Regions from separate parts of the Homo sapiens genome. Here region 2 is linked to region 1. The links come from fine-mapping of genetic effects on gene expression. A gene starts in region 1. The other region holds a variant in brackets. All regions are shown on one strand. Distances are from middle to middle.

The links.
Region 2: its variant is fine-mapped to the expression of LINC01722 in testis (GTEx, PIP above 0.99).

The regions. Positions count from the first base shown.
Region 1 is chr20:12,947,170-12,957,007 of GRCh38, reverse strand. LINC01722 (long intergenic non-protein coding RNA 1722) reads left to right here and starts at 4,489. Exons shown (of 12, transcript NR_109868.1): 1 at 4,489-5,243; 2 at 6,522-6,608. It overlaps LINC01723 (long intergenic non-protein coding RNA 1723), which reads right to left and starts at 6,668. Exons shown (of 2, transcript NR_109870.1): 1 at 6,247-6,668; 2 at 5,381-5,557.
Region 2 is chr20:12,837,940-12,847,777 of GRCh38, reverse strand. No RefSeq gene overlaps it. Among named protein-coding and RNA genes, the nearest start is that of LINC01723, 110 kb to the left of the region's middle. The variant C/T (reference allele first, on the strand shown) is at 4,301.

The DNA of each region.
Region 1 (9,838 bases):
AAAAAGAATCTGAATAGACAGAGGCCTTGCTGGGTTTCCCCACTTAGTCTATCAGCATTATAATAGATATTATAGATCATACCCTTTGATCCAATCACATTTCTACACATATGTCAGTCATGCCTATCCAATGGAGTCCTCATAAAATGCCTAAGAGGACAGGGTGTGTAGAGCTTCTGGAGAGCTGAACATGTGGAGGCTGACAGGCAGGTGAAGGAGAACTTGTCCATGTGCCCGGAGGGTGACACACCCCAACTCCATGGGGACAGGAGCTCCTGTGCTCTTCCAGGCCTCACAGTATATATCTCTTCATCTGATTTTTCATTTGGATCCTTTAAAACATCCTTTGTTATACATTGATTAACATGAGTATTTCCTTGTGTTCTGTGAACTGCTCTAGCAAATTAGTCAAACTCAAACAGGGGTTTGTGGGAAACACAGCTTGAAGCCAGTCAGTGAGAAGTTCTGGAGGTGTGGAGTTTCAACTGGTTAGAAGAAGGGGGTGTTCTTGTGGGACTGAGCCCTCAACCTGTGGTTTCTGAGGCTATCCCCAGGTAGATAGTGTCAGAACTAAATTAAATTGGAGACACCCAGGTGGTTTCCACTGCAGAATCAATTGCTAGCTTGGGGTATGGAGAGAAACCTGCACATATTTGGTGGCAGAAGTCTTCTGTGTTGATTGTTGTTGTTGAGAGAAGAGAGGAAAAACACAGCTTGAGTTGCTCTTTTCCACACTCATTCCCCAATGCACACATTCAGCAAACACCAAGTACAGTTTCTGAAATTATTTTTCTTCCATATATCTGTCCTGATATATGTATTTAAATTTAGTTTTACATTTTCTAAATTTATCAGTAAACACTTTTGACTTCTAATGTGTATAATTTTCGCATTTCCTCTTTTCAGTAATTTTAAAAAATTTTTCTTTTACAAAAATATTTACTTGAAAAGGACTGGAAATTTTAAAAATGGTCCTTAATACAGTTAGCTTTAGCAGCATCAGCCTAAATAACTTGAATAAACAACAGATCATGATCAGTGTTACAGTAAATGTAAAGACTAAAGCATCAAAGCCTAAAGAGAGAGGGAAGACAACACTACTTGCATGACTCTTGAAAAATGCACCAACTCGTTGTTGCTTTTCTCAGTTGACCCTCTAGACAAAGCCATGAGGTTGACAGAGATCACCAATCTTGAAGTTGTCTGACTCAAAGCCTTAAACATTTAGCACATGATAAGGAAGGGTAACACTTACTGAGGGCTCCTTGTGCTGCCAGCGTACAAAGGTGGGGTCAGCTCTCCTTCTTGAAACTTCTTCCAAGTGGCCTATGCTTGCTTCCCGTAGGTGGTTTCTAGATATTCTCTTAATGCAAACACAACTTACTGAAGAGCAGACAGTTTTATTTATTATTTTTAAAATTTTTTATTTCCGTTGGTTATTGGGGGACAGGTGATGTTTGGTTACATGGGTAAGTTTTTTATTGGTGATTTCTGAGATTTTGGTGCACCTATCACGTGAGAGCAGTGTACAATGCACCCAATTAGTAGTTTTTTCTCCCTCACCCCCTTCCCACCTTTTTCCCTTGAGTTCCTAAAGTCCATTGTGTCATTCTTATGCCTTTGTATCCTCATAGCTTAGCTCCCACTTATGAGTGAGAAAATGCGATGTTTGGTTTTCCATTCCTGACCTACTTCACTGAGAATAATAGTCTCCAATCTCTTTCAGTTTGCTTCAAATACCATTAATTCATTTCTTTTTATGGCTGAGTAGTATTCCATTGTGTGTGTGTATGTGCCACAGAAACTGTAGCATATATATATGTATATACACACACATATATATACACACATATCTAGGCACCACAGTTTCTTTATTCACTCATTGATTGATGGGCATTTGGGTTGGTCCCACATTTTTACAATTGTGAATTGTGCTATTATATACATGCATGAGCAAGTATCTTTTTTGTATAATGGCTTCTTTTCTTCTGGGTAGATACTCAGTAGTGGGATAGCTATATCAAATAGTAGTTCTACTTTTAGTTCCTTAAGGAATCTCCATACTGTTTTTATCATAGTGGTTGTACTAGTTTACATTCCCACAAGCAGTGTAGAAGTGTTCCCTTTTCATTGCATCCATGCCAACATCTTTTTTTTTTTTTTAAATTTTTTGATGATGGTCATTCTTGGAGGAGTGAAGTAGTATCACTTTGTGGTTTTGATTTGCATTTCCCTGATCATTAGTGATGTTGAGCATTTTTTATATGTTTGTTGGCCATTTGTATGTCTTCTTTTGAGAATTGTCTATGCATGTCCTTATCCCACTTTTTGATGGGATTGTTTGTTTACTTCTTGCTAATTTGTTTGAGTTCATTTTAGATTCTGGATATTAGTCCTTTGCCAGATGTATTGATTGTGAAGATTTTCTCCCACTCTGTCAGTTTTCTGTTTACTCTGCTGATTGTTCCTTTTGCTATGCAAAAGCTCTTTAGTTTAATCAAGTCCCAGTTGCTTATCTTTGTTTATATTACATTTGCTGTTTGGTTCTTGGTCATGAAATCCTTGCCTAAGCTAATATCTAGAAGAGTTTTTCTGATGTCATCTGCTGGAATTTTTTCACATCTTATATTTAAGTCCTTGATCCATCTTGAGTTGATTTTTGTATAAGGTAAGAGATGATGATCCAGTTTCATTCTCCTACATGTGGCTTGCCAATTATCCCAGCACCATTTGTTGAATAGGGTGTCCTTTCCCCCACTTTATGTCTTTTTTTGCTTTGTCAAAGATCAGTTGGCTGTAAGTATTTGGGTTTATTTCTGGGTTCTCTGTTCTGTTCCATTGGTCTATGTGCCTAGCTTTATATCAGTACCATGATATTTTGGTGACTATGGCCTTATAGTATAGTTTGAAATCAGGTAATGTGATGCCTCCAGATTTGTTCTTTTTGCTTTGGTTATGCGGGCTCTTTTTTGCTTCCATATAAATTTTAGAATTGATTTTGTAGTTCTGTGAAGAATGATGGTGGTATTTTGATGAGAATTGCATATACGTACAACAAATAGCACTATGAATGGAACAGTATCTCACATTTCAATACTAATATTTAATTTAGATGGCCTAAATGCTCCACTTAAAAGATACAGAATTGCAGAATGGATAAGAATTCACCAGCTATTTGCTGCCTTCAAGAGACTCACCTCATCAGAGAAATGCAAATCAAAACCACAATGAGATACCACCTCACACCAGTTAGAATGGCAATCATTAAAAAGTCAGGAAACAACAGGTGCTGGAGAGGATGTGGAGAAATAGGAACACTTTTACACTGTTGGTGGGACTGTAAACTAGTTCAACCATTGTGGAAGTCAGTGTGGCAATTCCTCAGGGATCTAGAACTAGAAATACCATTTGACCCAGCAATCCCATTACTGGGTATATACCCAAAGGACTATAAATCATGCTGCTATAAAGACACATGCACACGTATGTTTATTGAGGCACTATTCACAATAGCAAAGACTTGGAACCAACCCAAATGTCCAACAATGATAGACTGGATTAAGAAAATGTGGCACATATACACCATGGAATACTATGCAGCCATAAAAAACGAGGAGTTCATGTCCTTTGTAGGGACATGGATGAAATTGGAAATCATCATTCTCAGTAAAGTATTGCAAGGACAAAAAAGCAAACACCACATGTTCTCACTCATAGGTGGGAATTGAACAATGAGAACACATGGACACAGGAAGGGGAACATCACACTCTGGGGACTGTTGTGGGGTGGGGGGAGGGGGGAGGGATAGCATTAGGAGACATACCTAATGCTAAATGAAGAGTTAATGGGTGCAGCACACCAGCATGGCACATGTATACATATGTAACAAACCTGCACATTGTGCACATGTACCCTAAAACTTAAAGTATAATAATAATAATAATAATAATAATTTAAAAATTAAAAAAAAAAGAGACTCACCTAACACTTAAGGACTCACATTAACTTAAGGTAAAGGGGTGGAAAAAGAGATTCCATGCAGATGGAGACCAAAAGCGAGCAAGAGTAGCTATTCTTATATCAGACAAAAGAAACTTTAAAGCAACAGCAGTTAAGAAAGACAAAGGGAGACATTATATAATGATAAAAGGCCTGTTCAACAGGAAAATATCACAATCCTAAATATATATGCACCTAATACTGGAGCTCCCAAGTTTATAAAACAATTACTACTAGATCTAACAAATGAAATAGACAGCAAAACAATAATAGTGGGGGACTTCAATACTCCACTGACGACACTAGACAGGTCATCAAGACAGAAAGTTAGCAAAGAAACAATGGATTTAAACTATACCCTAGAGCAAATGGACTTAACAGATATTTACAGAACATTCTACCCAACAACTACAGAATATACATTATAATCATCAGCATATGGAACTTTCTCTAAGATAGACCTTATGATAGGCCACAAAATGAGCCTCAGTAAATTTAAGGGAATTGAAATTATATAAAGTACTCTATCAGACCACAGTGGAATAAAACTGGAAATCCACTCCGAAAGGAACCTTCAAAACCATGAAAATACATGGAAATTAAATAACCTGCTCCTAAATGATCACTGGGTCAAGTATGAAATCAAGATGGGAATTAAAGAATTCTTCAAACTGAATGCAAATAGTGACACAACCTATCAAAACCTCTGGAATACAGCAAAGGCAGTGCTAAGAGGAAAGTTCACAGCTCTAAATGCCAACATCAAAAAATCTGAAAGAGCATAAACGGACAACCTAAGTTCACACCTCAAAGAACTGGAGAAACAAGAACAAACCAAACCCAAACCCAGCAAGAAAAAGGAAATAAACAAGATCAGTGCAGAACTAAATGAAATTGAAATAACAACGAAAAACAATACAAAAGATAAATGAAACAAAAAGCTTGTTCTTGAAACCAGCTTAATAAATAAAATAGATAAATAAAACTGATTGAACATTAGCAAAATTAACCAAGAAGACAGAAAATCCCAATAAACTCAATCAGAAATGAAATGGGAGATATTACAACTGACACCACAGAAATACAAAAGATCATTCAAGGCTACGATGAACACTTTCATGCGCATGAACTAGAAAACCTAGAGGAGGTGGATAACTCCTTGGAATGATATAACCCTCCTATCTTACAACAGGAAGAATTAGATACCCTGAACAGACCAATAACAAGCAGCGAGATTGAAATGGTAACTAAAAAAATGTTTTATATTTTAAATCCCTGTATGTACTTCTCTAATTTTTACTCCAAATATACAAGATATGTTAGTGTGTAGGAAGCAAGTGTAAGTTTGATGTTCACATAAGAAGCAGTATCCAAGGAGAGTACCATTGAATTGTGACCTTATGTGTCATTTATTGCATTAGGAGTGAGCCAATGTTTTACCCTTTGAGATGAGCAGATTGCTTGAGGGGAGTTAAAGTCCTTACATATGTCATCAGCAAACCATTTTCACGGACTGCTGGGCAGAATTTAGGCAGATCAGGGAAGTGATGACAATGGCTAGAAGAAGGGTAGAAAGGGAGAGACATAGGTGAGAATGACAGACATTCAGGAGGTGCATCAGTGGGAGCAAGATACGGCACCACAAAAAAAGACCCGGAGAATAATATACTGTAAAGCCATATTTACAATTTATGGACATGCAAATCTATTCAATATATTGTTTAAGAGTACAGAAAGTTGAAGTCAAGCTACAAAGAATAGCAATTGATAAATAAACATAAAATTCAGCATAATGGCTACCGAGGAGGTGGTTTTTTGATATAGGGGGTGGGGGCCCACAGAAGAAGGCTAAGGTAAATACTGCTCTGTTTCTTAAGACAAATGATGGCTATGCTGGGATTCTTTAATTAATTATCTTTGTGCTTCGAGTACACATTTTATGCATTTCCTCTAGTGAGTCAGATATTTTATTTTATTATACTAAAATAGGAAAAGTAACTGGGCATAGAAACCTTAAGTTATACTGATAATTTTTGAGAGCCTGGGCTACAGTACTGAGCCCTTTCCTATAAGGCTCTTTCCTGTTTTTATTAAAAAAATTAAAAAAATGTTTTTTAATAGGAAGTTCCTATAAAGAAAGAACTGCTGCCTTGATCCCCAAGTTCAGATCCCAAATTTCAGAGCCTCTTCCATCCATATCCACTTACCTAGGCTGCTCTTCCCTAAAGCCAAGCCACTCCACTCACCTGGGGGCTCCAGGCCTCCCTGTTCCTGCTCATCACAGCCTCACATCTTGGCTGTCAGTCCCTGAGCAGCCAGAAAGATCAGGAGTAGGGTGAACACAGCAGAGATGGCCAGGACAGTGGAGACTTGTTTACTGTCACCATTGGGAACCTCTGAAGGTGCTTTAAAAGGGTGGGGCCAAAAGCTGGGGGCAGAGTCAGAACAGCTGGGGCAGCAGTAAGTCTCTGACCCCTCCCCACCCAGTGATTTTGGGAAGTTTTTCTGCTTGGCTCCTCAGACCCAGCTTGCCCCTCTGTCCTGGAAATGAGCCTCAATTAATTTCTCCCAAGAAGGTGGGACATCTGGCTCCACTGGACAGATGGAGGTGAGATGGTTGAGAGGGAAGCAAGGGTGGAGGGAGTCAACGGCTGCCGCTGGGTGTGTCTCTCTGGATCAGAGACCACTTGAGAAGAAATTCCGGTGACGGAATCACAAGTGGGGTGGGGGAGCATTAGGTCACAATGGTCAGATTGTGACCCACATGGAGTGGAGCTGGGGATTGGCCAGCCAGGAAGAGGGGGTTGATAAAAGCCAGGTTACCAGGGAGTGAGCCCGGCAGAGAGGGGCTGGGCTTGAAGGGATGGGGTGAAGGGATGGTGATGATTGGGTTCTGGCTCCTGCTCCAAGGCCCTTTCATGGAGACTTATTTCCCATGGTCCTCTCCTAAGGAAAGCCTCTCCACTCTCACCTGCATCCTGCCCTGAGTCTCAGCCTCTGACTACAGTCTATAGTCTACAGCTTCCCTCTCCCCACGTCCCAACCCCAGTTTTCTTAGTTCCTGGCTGCAAGGATTTTAGATCCTCCACTCAATTTCCAAAAATTTCTCCTGGCACCAGCTTCTCTACCCAGCATTTTTAGCCTACCTGTCAATCCTCCCCTATATGTCCCATCGGTATGGAAGTCCAGATGACAGTCATTGATATGCTGCTTGCATTTTCTGAATCACTATGTCAATGAGAAATGCGCCCTATCAGAGCTAACAGAGCTTCACAGCAAGGTCATTTTGAAGATAACCTTCTTCAAAATGAAGAGTGAGGAGGACATAAGTGCTGTAGGATCAGTATGTGAGGCTACCACAAACATGCTGTGGTTTGCACATTCTTTGAGGCTTGCAGAGAGAAGCCTGAAAAACACGGCTGATGTCTTGGCAGAATTTACCCTGGCCCCCAGGCTGGTGTACAAAACATCTTCATGACAAGGTGTCTTGCTGGCCACTCTTAACCATTAGAAGAAACAGATGCCATGGAACTTTGAAAAATCAGAAAGTGAATGTACAAATGGAGAACCTTTGAAGACAGCAGAGCCCAATGTGGGTAAATGACATTGCTCGTAGGAAGGAAACAGTGTTATGGAGCAAAAGGGGCTCACTGCCTGATGCACTAGAAGGCAATACTAGGACAATGGGTTTTGAGAAAATAAAAGCCTTACACTGAAATTCAACAACCAAGAAGACAGGAGTCAAGCTCATCTGTCTCCTGTGTTGGCTCCAAGGCAGTTTTTAGAAAAGTTTTATGGGGTGGATACTGGGGTTAGCAGGTGATTGGTGGAAGGTAAGCAGAGTCTGAAAAGTCCTCAGGCATGTGCAGTTATCTCTTCATGCTACCTTATGAGTCATATGTGCAAATTTGGGAGAAGTTAGTATGAAACAAGCAGTGGAAATCCAGGCTGCAGTTTCAGCAAGCTTGTTCTAGTAGGCCATCTTGGTCCCAACCAATGTTAGGCAGTTCTTTTACCTCAAAAGCAGAGGGAGTTTCAGTGTTTCAGTGACTTGGTTTTTTTTCATCTGCCATTCTGCAAAATCAAGATTTTCTGTTAGTCATTATGAACTCTTTGGGACTGGTTTCAACAGCAGGCCCAGAAGCATCACAGACATATCTTACAGTGAAAGAGTTCTGGGCACCACTTTGGGAGGCGAAGGTGGGTGGATCATGAGGCCAGGCGTTCAAGACCAGCCTGGCCAACATGGTGAAACCCGCCTCTGCTAAAGATACAAAAAATTAGCTGGACTTGGTGGTGCGCACCTGTAATCTCAGCTACTCGGGAGGCTGAGGCAGAAGAATTGCTTGAACCCAGGAGGTGGAGGTTGAAGTGAGCCGAGATTGCGCCATTGCATGCTAGCCTGGGTGACAGGGCAAGGTCTCAAAAAAAAAAAAATAAGTTCTGGGCACGTAATTACTGCTATCATATTTCTGACATATCTGCTTTTTTTTAAAGAGAGGATATGAAGTGTTTACTAAGCAGACTAAGAAGAATATAAACAACATCTCAAGAGAAATCTAAGGAATTTTAAACAGACTACCCGATTACTAATATTTTTATAAAATCCTGAATGGTACTTAAAAATGACTATTGAAAAAAAAGAAACTTGAAATAATTAAAGTATCAGGACAAATAAAAAGTAAAAGAAAGAAACTAATAATTAGAAGGGAAATTGCACAAAACTCAGTGGTTTTACAAATTCCACATTAGAAATTCCATATTAGCACTCTTAATAAGAAAGCCTATGCAGTTTTCATTGTCGCTTGGGCTGCGGAAAGAATTCATGCACAGAGAATGAAAGTGGCCACCTGAGGAAGGTCCTTTGAAGATAAGCCATCAGTTCAGCTTTGATGGCCATCTCCAAAAACCTTCACCAAACACTTCCATAAAGAGGTTTTATTCAAGCTGGGGGCCCCTTTGGCCCTCACAAAAAAATTGAGAAAGTTTCCTGTGATCGCTCAACAATGTCCCAACTTGTGATGTGTTTCTTTTCTGGAAATGGAAGATTTGGGCTTATACCTGAGGAAGAGACTACAATGTAGTAACAGTGAATCATCAAAATGCTTGGTAAATTAATGACCTCAGAGCTGTTCCCTCTTTTGGCCACGGCTATCACCTTAAGCAGTCTGGATTCTTCCAGAGTAAGGAGTGATGTTTTTCACATTGGTGCCCTGACATTGGGTTTTCCTTACAAATGTTCAATGTGATCTCACCAACTGCAGGATGCCCACCCCTACGTAGTCCATTGAGACCCTCTCTCCTCACCTGTGGGAAGCTGAGAGCCTTCCATCCCACCTCAGAGTCCTGCTAGCCCATATCCTTAATAGTAGCATTCCTGGATTATCACATTGAAAAAGAGGACACTAGCCCCTGGCATCTGAGAACTGGGCTGTTACTGTTAGGTGTGGTGGATCTGGCCCAGTACTGACAGCTAGGTGGTAAAGTTCTCCTGTTCAACATAAAAAGACAAGAGCACTAGACAAGGCACCTCTGTGGCTTTAGTGGATGAAAAACAAAAACAAAAACCAAGACCAATCTGTAATAACGTCTGAATGCAAACAAAACATACAAACTGCTAAAACTGCAAAAAATGGCCAAACATATTCCTCTCCTGGTCAGAATATGAGTAACTGACATTTGTTTAACAATCACAGCTTTAGCCTCACCATCCCATTGCTTTTTTTGTTTAAGATTTATCAAGATAACCAATCATGGAATTATCCCCACTTCCTAATAGCATCCAATACAAAGCAAAACTTTGCTTTATGAATTATCTCTGAAAAACTTTACATAAGC
Region 2 (9,838 bases), 110 kb after region 1:
TGCTGTGCCTCCAAATAACTTTTAATTAGACATTTAAATTAGACTGGTGCTGGTTCACTGAATCCAGAGTTTTTGTATTTCTCCAATCCAATTATTAGATGTTTTAATTTACCAATTCATGCCTTGCTATTTATTTTAATATTACTTACCATGGCATTAAACCTATAATTCCTAGATTTTCTCATAAAGAAAATGAGATATAAATGTCTGAAATTAAGAACAGAAAATCCTAAGCAGTCAAATTTATAATAAAAAGTAAATAAAGCAAGCTTAAGACATCAAATCTGTAATCGAAAATAGCCATTCTCTAGACAGGTGCTGACGAGGGAGAATGAACAAAAATACTGTAATGTTATGGAGAGGACATCTGAAACATCCTAAGGGATTTCCTTGTGCTTTTTGTGAAGGTGAAAGTGAATACGGGCTTTCCTGATGAGATGGGCTACTTCACAAACCCATTTTGGTCTCTACTGGCCAGAACTGGGTTGCAGTTACAGGCCATCGGAATCTTTTCAGGATAGGGGAGACTGGGGCATGAGGTGTGGAGTTAAGTAGATGTGAGGAAGGTTGACATGGCCACTCTAAACATTTATTGAATACTTGTAATACACTGGGAATTTTCTGAGTGCTTTTGCTCATTTAACACATACTGTTATAAAGTATGAACTATTACTATCTCCATTTATAGAAGAACAAGCTGAAGCACAGAGAAGTTAAGTATCTGATCCAAGGTCACATAGAGAGTAAGCACTGGGAGTGAGATTGGAACTCAAGCTGGCTCCTGAATTTGCACTTTCTATCCTCACTCTGCCATACCTCTCCAAAAAAGCAGATAGTGAAAAACAAGAAAAAGCTGGGCTCCTCTGTCAAACCAGTCACAAATGGTAGGAGTTCTTGCCTAATGTAGTCATTATGAGGATTAAATTGGATAATTCATGTTAAAATGCTTAGCCTAGTATCTGGCATAGAATGTTGTTCATAGTGGACATTAATTGAGTGCTTGCTGCATGTCTTTAAGAAGAAGAAAACCATTTAGTGATGATGATGATGATGATGATGATAATGGGACAGAAGTACAAAGAGGATGAAGCCTAAAGCAAACCCTTAGACGTGGCTTCAGGCACTCCCATCATTATGTAGTGCTCTCAATCTTGATGGTGGTGGATGGAGTCACGAGCTGAGGGGACAAAGAGGGGTTGAGGGGGTTAAATGATTCATTTTTCCTTCATGCGCCAGTGCATAAAAACTGGATTTTAACACTAAACAACCCGTGATCCCAACCACGGGCTGGGCCCCGGGCCATCCATGTGCATCCTTTCATCAGTCTGGGGAAGCCTTCTGAAGCAGTGCCTGGCAAAAGTCCAGTGGGGACCCACTGTTTCCACTCACCAGCAATTCAGAGAAAACATTCACAAGCCAAGCATCTCCTGGGCTTCTTATGAAGATGCATGCTCTGCCCTCAAAACATTCATTATCTAAGAGTAAAAATAAAGTATGTTTATATTTAGTGAAGAATGTGAGACTGGGAACTGAGGGACAGACATAGGGACAGTTAGTGTGTCTCTTCCAGGAACGGCAATCAAGGTCTTTTTCAAGACTTTTTTATCTGAGGATTTGAGTCAGACAAAAAATCGAGGCTTTAGTGAACTTTCAGTGAGACGTCTTATGTAGCCTTGGTGGCAGAGAAATTTTCAGGTACTCCATGCCCACTGCTGAAGCTGAAATGGGTCATATTCCATCTGCTTTTGTCCCCTATATAAGTTTATTTTGTGGGAAGGGAGGTTACCTATGATCTGAGCTTAGCCAATCAGATGATCTTTCCTAGAACTTCACACCTTGATCCAGTCACCCAAGAACACAGTGACTATAGGTCGTACATAATAAAGATGGTACCCTACCTGACTAGGGTTTTCTTATTGCAATAGACAAGGAGACTGTTGCTTTGCTGCCTGAGTCCTGTTCTCTGTCACTCTCTTGGTTCCCACTTCTTCCCAAACCCAACCACTCACTAATTCTTTGAGCCCTCAATAATTTTCCAATATATTCCCTGTTATCTAAATTAGAGTCAGTGTCTGATACTGAAAACCAATAACCCTAACTTACTAATAATACTACTGCTAATACTGCCTCAAAACGAAATTTAGTCATAGCAACAGCCACAGTCCCATTAGGGTTTTATGGGGTGCTGTTATTAATATACCATATTGGGAACTGCATGCCTATGCCTCTTAGGGTTTTTTATATCCCTAATATTGTACATGAATTTGTGATAGTAACCACCCTAGCTTTCAGTTTTGCTAAAGTGCATCAGTAAGGCTTCTGAAGCCATGGGGATCTTTGAATTTCCTATAGAGTGAGATAAGGCTCTTTCTCATTACTCTAAGAATAGCCCAGCTCCTAAAGCCATTCAGAAATCCACAGAGGGAGATCTGGCTCACAGGCCTTGCAATAAACTCTTATTAACACTATCAAAAGTAATCTGCTTTTGTCTTGACCTCACTTTAGATTCTCGGCAGGTATAATGGACAGATTTGTAGGGTTTCCTTTTCCTTTTTAAAAGACTAGATAAATGTACCTTTCTTTCATCAGATTATAAAAGTCTAATGTAAATGGAAAGTTCATTGCTCACCTTGATAATAGACGTAATCTTCCTAGTGGATGCCCTCCTGTCAGAAGACATGTGAGATAGGCCTAGAGATTGTTTTCGGTTAAAACAGCCTGAAAATAAGCTTAATTTCCCAGTTTGTGCACTTTAACTTCTCTCCAACGGATGTAATGGGAAAATGCTTTTTATCAACTTTCAGTGAGGAAAAGATGTATGCTTTCTATTGTTTACAGTTACACTTGGCTGTGTTGGTCCTGTGCAGTCTGGTTATAATTGGTCCTGATGTTCAACTCATCAATTAGACCAGGCTCCTTATTATTTATTTCTTTTGGTGGTGGATAGGTGGGAGCATTGGGAGGAAGAGTGAGAAACTGTTAACATCAATGTTGGTTTTACACTGAGTATTAAAATAAGCTCAGACTCAAAGTATAGATAAAAGCACATCAAAGCAGCACTCACTGAGTATGTTTAGCATTTTATACCTCACAACATGTGTTTGTTTCTGTCACTTTGGGTTCTATAGCAAATAGGAAGCCTGCATACACCTTTGACCCAAGGGAAAACCAAGGCTTACACACACACACACACGGACATTTGACTCAAGTCACACAGCTAAACAAACACTGTTATGAATGAGATTTTGCATATCAGGCTGTTGGCTCATTTTCCTTGGTTAAACAACATGGCAGGTAGGAAAGCCTAGAAGAGAGATGGGATTTGAAAGCAGCAGACCCGAGCTGTGCTTCCAGCTGTGTTCCTTCTTGGTTAGCTGCGTTGTGGCAAGAATAAGCCTTAGTTTTTCATCTGTGAAACAGGAATAATAACAATGCCTGTTTTTCATGAAAAACACTTTGTAAAATGCAAAGTACTTTAAAAATACAATTATTATATATTTATGATAATAATTGATTATGTATTGAGCATTTACTATGTGCCAGGTATTGACACACATTATTTTATTTTTATATTGTAAAATAAAGCATATATCAAAAATTTCCTAAAACATCATTATATTGTGTAAGAATTTGTTGTGAAGGTTACATCTGTGAACTACCACCACATCAAGAATCAGAATGCTATCAGCAAACCAGAAACTGTGAGTACACATCTCTCTTCCTCCTTCCCCTAGAGGTAACCTCTATTCTAGGGTTAAAGCAATCATTTATATGCTTTTCTTTATATTTTTAATAATCCACAAATAATATAGTTTAGTTTTGCCTTTTTTTTTTTTTGACAGAGTCTTGCTCTGTTGCCCATGCTGGAGTACACTGGTGCAATCTCAGCTCACTGCTACCTCCGCCTCCCAGATTCAAGAGATTCTCCTGCCTCAGCCTCTTGAGTAGCTGGGATTACAGGCACCTGCCACTATGCCCAGCTACAAGAGATTCTCCTGCCTCAGCCCCCTGAGTAGCTGGGATTACAGGCACCTGCCACTATGCCCAGCTACAAGAGATTCTCCTGCCTCAGCCCCCTGAGTAGCTGGGATTACAGGCACCTGCCACTACGCCCAGCTAATTTTTGTATTTTTAGTAAAGATGGGGTTTCACCTTGTTGGCCAGGCTGGTCTCCAACTGAACTCCTGACCTAAGGTGATCTGCCTGGCTTGGCCTCCCAAAGTGCTGGAATTCCAGGCATGAGACACTATGCCCAGAAGTTTTGCCTTTTTTTGAACTTTATATTGATTGAATCAAATGG[C/T]ATGTATTGTTTTGCATTTGGTTTCCTTTATTGACATGGGGTTTTGAAGGTTCATTCAACTCATTCTGTATAGCTGTAGTCATTCATTTTCATTACTTACAGTATTCTACTGGATGAATATATAATAATTTATCTAAACCTCATACCATTGATTGATATTTAGATTGTTTCTTGCTTTTTGCTCTTGTGAATGATGCACTTATAAATTAGTACATGTATCTTGATGCACATATGTATGCAATTCTGTAGGCTATGCGTTAGCAGTACAATTACTGAGTCACACACAGATTATATATATCTTTAATTCTATTAGACTGTGTCTTACTGCCCGTAAAAAGGTAGATGTCCCAATTTACACTCCCACTAGCAAGTATAAGAATTTACATTGTTCCATACCCTCTCCAACATTCAATATTTTTGCATGTTTAAGTAATGATGAGTCTGGTGTCCATATAGTAGCATCTCACGGAGGTATTAATATGCATTTCCCTGATTACTACCGAGGGTGCATCTGTTTATAAGTTTATTTATCTTCTTTTTAAAGTGTTTGTTCACAGGTCCTGCTTATTCTCTATTGGGTTGTCTATCTTTTCTCACTGATTTGTAAGGTTTTAGAAAACAATAATCTAGCCACAAGTCCTTTGTTGGTTATCCATGTATCAAATATCCTTTTCCCTCTATGCTTTGCCTTTTCTTTCTCTGATGGTGTCTTTTGATGAACGTGCTTCTTCTTTTAAACATTGTCTAATTTATTAATCACTTCCCCTATGCTTATGGCATTTTGTGTCTTGTTATATGAAATCTTTCATTTCACTGAAGTTGTAAAGACTTTTTAAATGCTATTTTGTAAAATCTTCCAGTTAAGGTGGGGATACAACAGTTCACCATCGGGCAGCTGAAGTTAAGCCACTATTGAGGAAGGGGAGAGAGAAAATGTGGACTGTGGATTTCAGGTTAGTGACACCCATTTTACTTTTGAGTGCTTAGAAGGATCTGTTCAAGGAAGCAAAAGTATATAGAAAGTAGGATAGGTGCAGTAGGCTGGTCCAGGGTTCTATGGTTAGGTCATGCAAGATAAGTGTTTTATTTTTTTTTCTTTGCCTCCATTTCAGGCGCGCACACACACACACACACACACACACACACCCCAAAACAAAACCAAACCATACTGAGCTGCTTTATTTTGAGGAGAGTGGCAATTCTGATCCAGTTACTGTTTGCAGTAAAGAAAAAAATTTTGAAGAAGAGAAGGATAACTAGAGCTTTGATACAATATTTCTCCTAGCGTGGAAAACACAATTTGGGTAAAATTTAAGACATGAAAGAAGATGGAAGAAATTTTGAAATTGAGGTTTAGAATGTTTTGCAGATTTTTCATTCAAGAGCAAGGGTTACCAAGCTTATGGGAATTCTTTAAGTTTCATAGTATCTCTTTTACCCTGTTCCTTGCCCTTCCAAGTAACGTACTTATTAGTATGTTATAGAATATTAGAGATGGACGATCTCAAATTCAGCCTTTTCATTTTTCAGGTGGGGATACTAAGACTAAAGAAGAATGAAATCTTTGCCTGTGGTCACAGAGCTATTCAGTAAAATAAAATAACAAAAACTAGGTTTCTGAATATCCATCCATGGTTTCTAAAAGTGCTATAGAGTGCACATTTGAATAAAAGTAAATTGCTTGGAGAAATTTCTGACAATTTGAGATGCCATTAGGGATAACTGGAGACATTTATAGTTATTATAAAATCAGGACAAGTGATAGAAAAGTCCATTAAAGTGTGACCAACTCTCCAATTCTAGTCTTACATAAAAACTTAAATCTTTTAATTAATAAAAAACTTTAAAAATACAGTATTAAAAAGTTTAAAAATATATGAAACACTTTAATAGGCACTTTACAAAAGGGATACACAAATGGCCAATAAATATGTGTAAAATGTGCTCAACTTCATTCATCATTTGGAAAATGCCAAATAAAACCATAACGAGGTACAATTACACATCCACTAGAATGCCAAAAAACAAATAAGAAGATAAGGCAAAATCAAAACACCATAGACAATACCAGGTGTTGATGAGGACACAGAGCATCTGAAACTCTCATCCTATGATGGTGGGAGCATAAAATGGTCTAACCATTTTGGAAACTGGTAGTTTACTAAAGTTTAGTATATGGATACCCTATAATCCAGCAATTCTACTTCTAGGTATGTACCCAAGAGAACACACATATGCAATATAAGACGTGCACAAGAATCTTCGTAGCAGAGCTTTTCTTAAAAGCCTCACTCTGGAGATATTCCAAATGTTTTTTAACGATGAAATGGATAGTGGCATATTTATACAATAGAACTACACGCAGCAATGAGAAAATATGAACAACTATGACATGCAGCAGTATGACTATATCTTACAAACATAATATTCAGTGAAAGAAGCCAGACAGAACAGAGTATATCATGGAGAATTTTATTCATACAAAATTCAAAAACAAATTTACAGTTTACCCTTAAACAACACAGGTTTGAACTGCATGGGTCAACTTATACAATAGATTTTTTTTTCAAACAAATGCAGATAAAAATACGGTATTCCTGGGATGCCAACCCCATGTGTACAGAAGGTCAACTTTTTGTATAGGTGTGTTCTGCAAAGCTGACTGCAGGACTTGGGTACATGTGGAGTTTGATATTCCCTGGAGTCCTGGAGCCAATTCCCTGCATATACTGATGATGGAAAGTATTTTGTTAAGAAGTCAGAATAGTGCTTATCCTTGGGGAAATGACAGTGGTGGGTGAATAGAGCTCTAGTCATGTTTTCTTACTTGGTTTGGATAGTGGTTACACACGTGTGCTTAGACTGAAAATTCATCAAGCTATGATATATATCATATATGATATATATCACATTTGTGATATATACATATTTTTTTCTGCTTGTATGTTATGCTTCAATAAGATGTTCAAAAAATCTTAACTTTCTGCAAAGTTCCAGAGCCAGAGGTCTGGAAAAAAACCAGCATTCTACCATCCATACGGCAACCTGAATACATTTTCCATTTGACACACTCTTTCCACTTAGCCTGGCATCTGCTGCACATCTGTATCCCCCCTGGCAGCAGTAAGTTAAGCAACCCAGATGCTGAAGAAAAATCATAGCAGTAGGAGGCTGAACTTAAGACTCATAGATGAGGGAGGGCAGCTAAGTTTTCAAGTGACATCAGGAATGAATAGGAAAGTCGATTGGGAAGCAAAGAAGGAGAAAATGATCATTTTTGGCAGGAGTGAAGGCAGATTTTGCCATGGAGTCTGGTAGATTGTGAACTGGAAGATACAGCACAAAAATGAACAACAGTTAAGAACAATGTAAAGAACATGCCTGGGAAACTGGGGAGTTCTTTGCCCTGATAAAACACATGGCTGTCACTAGCTGTCTCTGCCAAGGAAGGACTGTATTCCTGTCTCATACATTACTTTTAAAAATATGAGAGAGAGAGAGAGAGAACCCTTAATTTTGAAATGCCCTTTCTTTCTGTACCAGAAGGAAAGTGGGGACTTGCTTTTATAACAGGAAAAGAAAAGCAACTTTGAGTATTACAGCATGCATGGAACATCCATAGGTATCATAACATTTAATCCTCATAGCAACCTGTGAGCTGGTGAGGGTTATTCTCTTTTATACATGGGACTTTAGACTCAGAGTTTGAGAAACTAGCACATTGTCCCATTAGTTTAAGACAGAGCCCAGCTTTGAACAGGCCCCTGTGTGACTAAAACTCCTTACTCTTTTTCACAAAAACAAGCACTGTCTTATGGAAATAGCTCTGCTTCTTCCCTTCTGCACTGATTTCCAAGGAGGAGGAAAATTCTGTCAGGAAACAACTGGTCTGTGATATCTGTCTGGGGAATCTACAAGAGCAGGGATGGGACTGTTTTGTGACTTAAAAAGAAGGGGCACACTGAATCCCAAACATCATGGCAGGGGGGCTCTAATGTATACCCCAGTGCACTGAGGGCATTCAGGGCTTCATTGCAGCCTGGTAGCTGTGGCTCCTTAGGGCAAACTACCATCCCTTTAAGTGGGATCTCAGCCTATAGGTTGAGTAGGTGGGATGTGTTATATGATGTTATTTGGGTTGCACCACAAATCTCCAAAGGAACCCCCAATTCTCCTACACCTACTCCAGTGACAGAAATTCCCACCCCAGCTGTGTCTCTGCATGAAGGCATTATCTGAGGGTAAGTTAAAACCTGGAGAGAAATCACAGTCATTTATCACACAGGCCTTCATTGCTTCATTGGGAGAACCCATTGCCCTTTTGGTGGGCAGGCACAGACTCTGGAGGCTGAGACCCCAAAGAAGTGTATTTTGATGCTGGGGGAAGGTGAAAGATTCAAGGGCTGCCGATGTGGAGGTTAATCTCATTGCATGAGGTAGTCAGGGATAGGTGTGGAAAATGGAGAGATACTCAATGGACTTGGGGGTGGTAGTGTGGGGGATAGTGAGAAGCCACATACACACATACACATACACACACATGCACACTATGCATGCATGCACACTCACACTCATACATACACATGCACACCACCCACACCACACCCCCACCCCAGATACTCAGTGGGTTATATTGGAGTCAGATAATCTGTGTTTGAACCTCACTTCTCTCACTAGTCAGTCTATGATCCTGGCCCAGTTACTTAACCTTTCTGAGCCTCATTGAGCTCATCTGTAAAGCATCTGTAGAGACTGAATGAAAGAAAAATCTACCCATCCCCTACCATGCTGTGAAAACAATGTCTGGTCCAAGGCACTTGTGGATATGGCTGAGTGACACTACAGAGGTGGAACTGGAGTCTAGGACAGGCCCAGGAGGGAGCAATGGGCCAGAGGGCAACAGAGGGGAGCATGATGGAAGTCATGGGGATGCAGATTTTATGATCATGCCAGAGCTACAGAATAAGGAAGACTTTCTGGTGATGGAAGAGGCTGCCTTGTGAGAGAGTGTGCCCCCTACTGGTGGAAGAATCACACAGGCTGCAGGGACACCTGTCGGGCAAGATGAAGTTTGGATTTCTGCACTCAAGGAAATTATTTCGGGTTCAAATCGCCCAGTGGGGAAGATTGTAGGGTTACTTTCTTTCTAAGCATTAACCAGGGAATTGGAAAGTGAGCTGTCCAGAGATGAGTGTAGACACCCAGGTTGGCCATCCTTGGAGAGGACCCAGAGATAAGCAACAGTATGTTGTTTTCACTTTTGATTATTTCATTGTTTGATGTCTGACTCCTGGTTTGAGTGTGCAGTAGACACTGGTTTGAGTGCCTACCTGAAATTCATTTTGTCTCTTTTCCCTTCTCACCTGGACCTATGCGTTTATTTGAGGAACTGCCTCTTTTTGGGTAGTTGTAGCCGATGGAGGATACCGAAACCCGATCTCTATGCTTATAGTATGTACTCTGGGTTCTGGTCCTTTTGCTGAAAATTGTATTTGGCCTGACTTCCAGCTGGCAGTTTTTGCATTTCTTTTTCTGAGA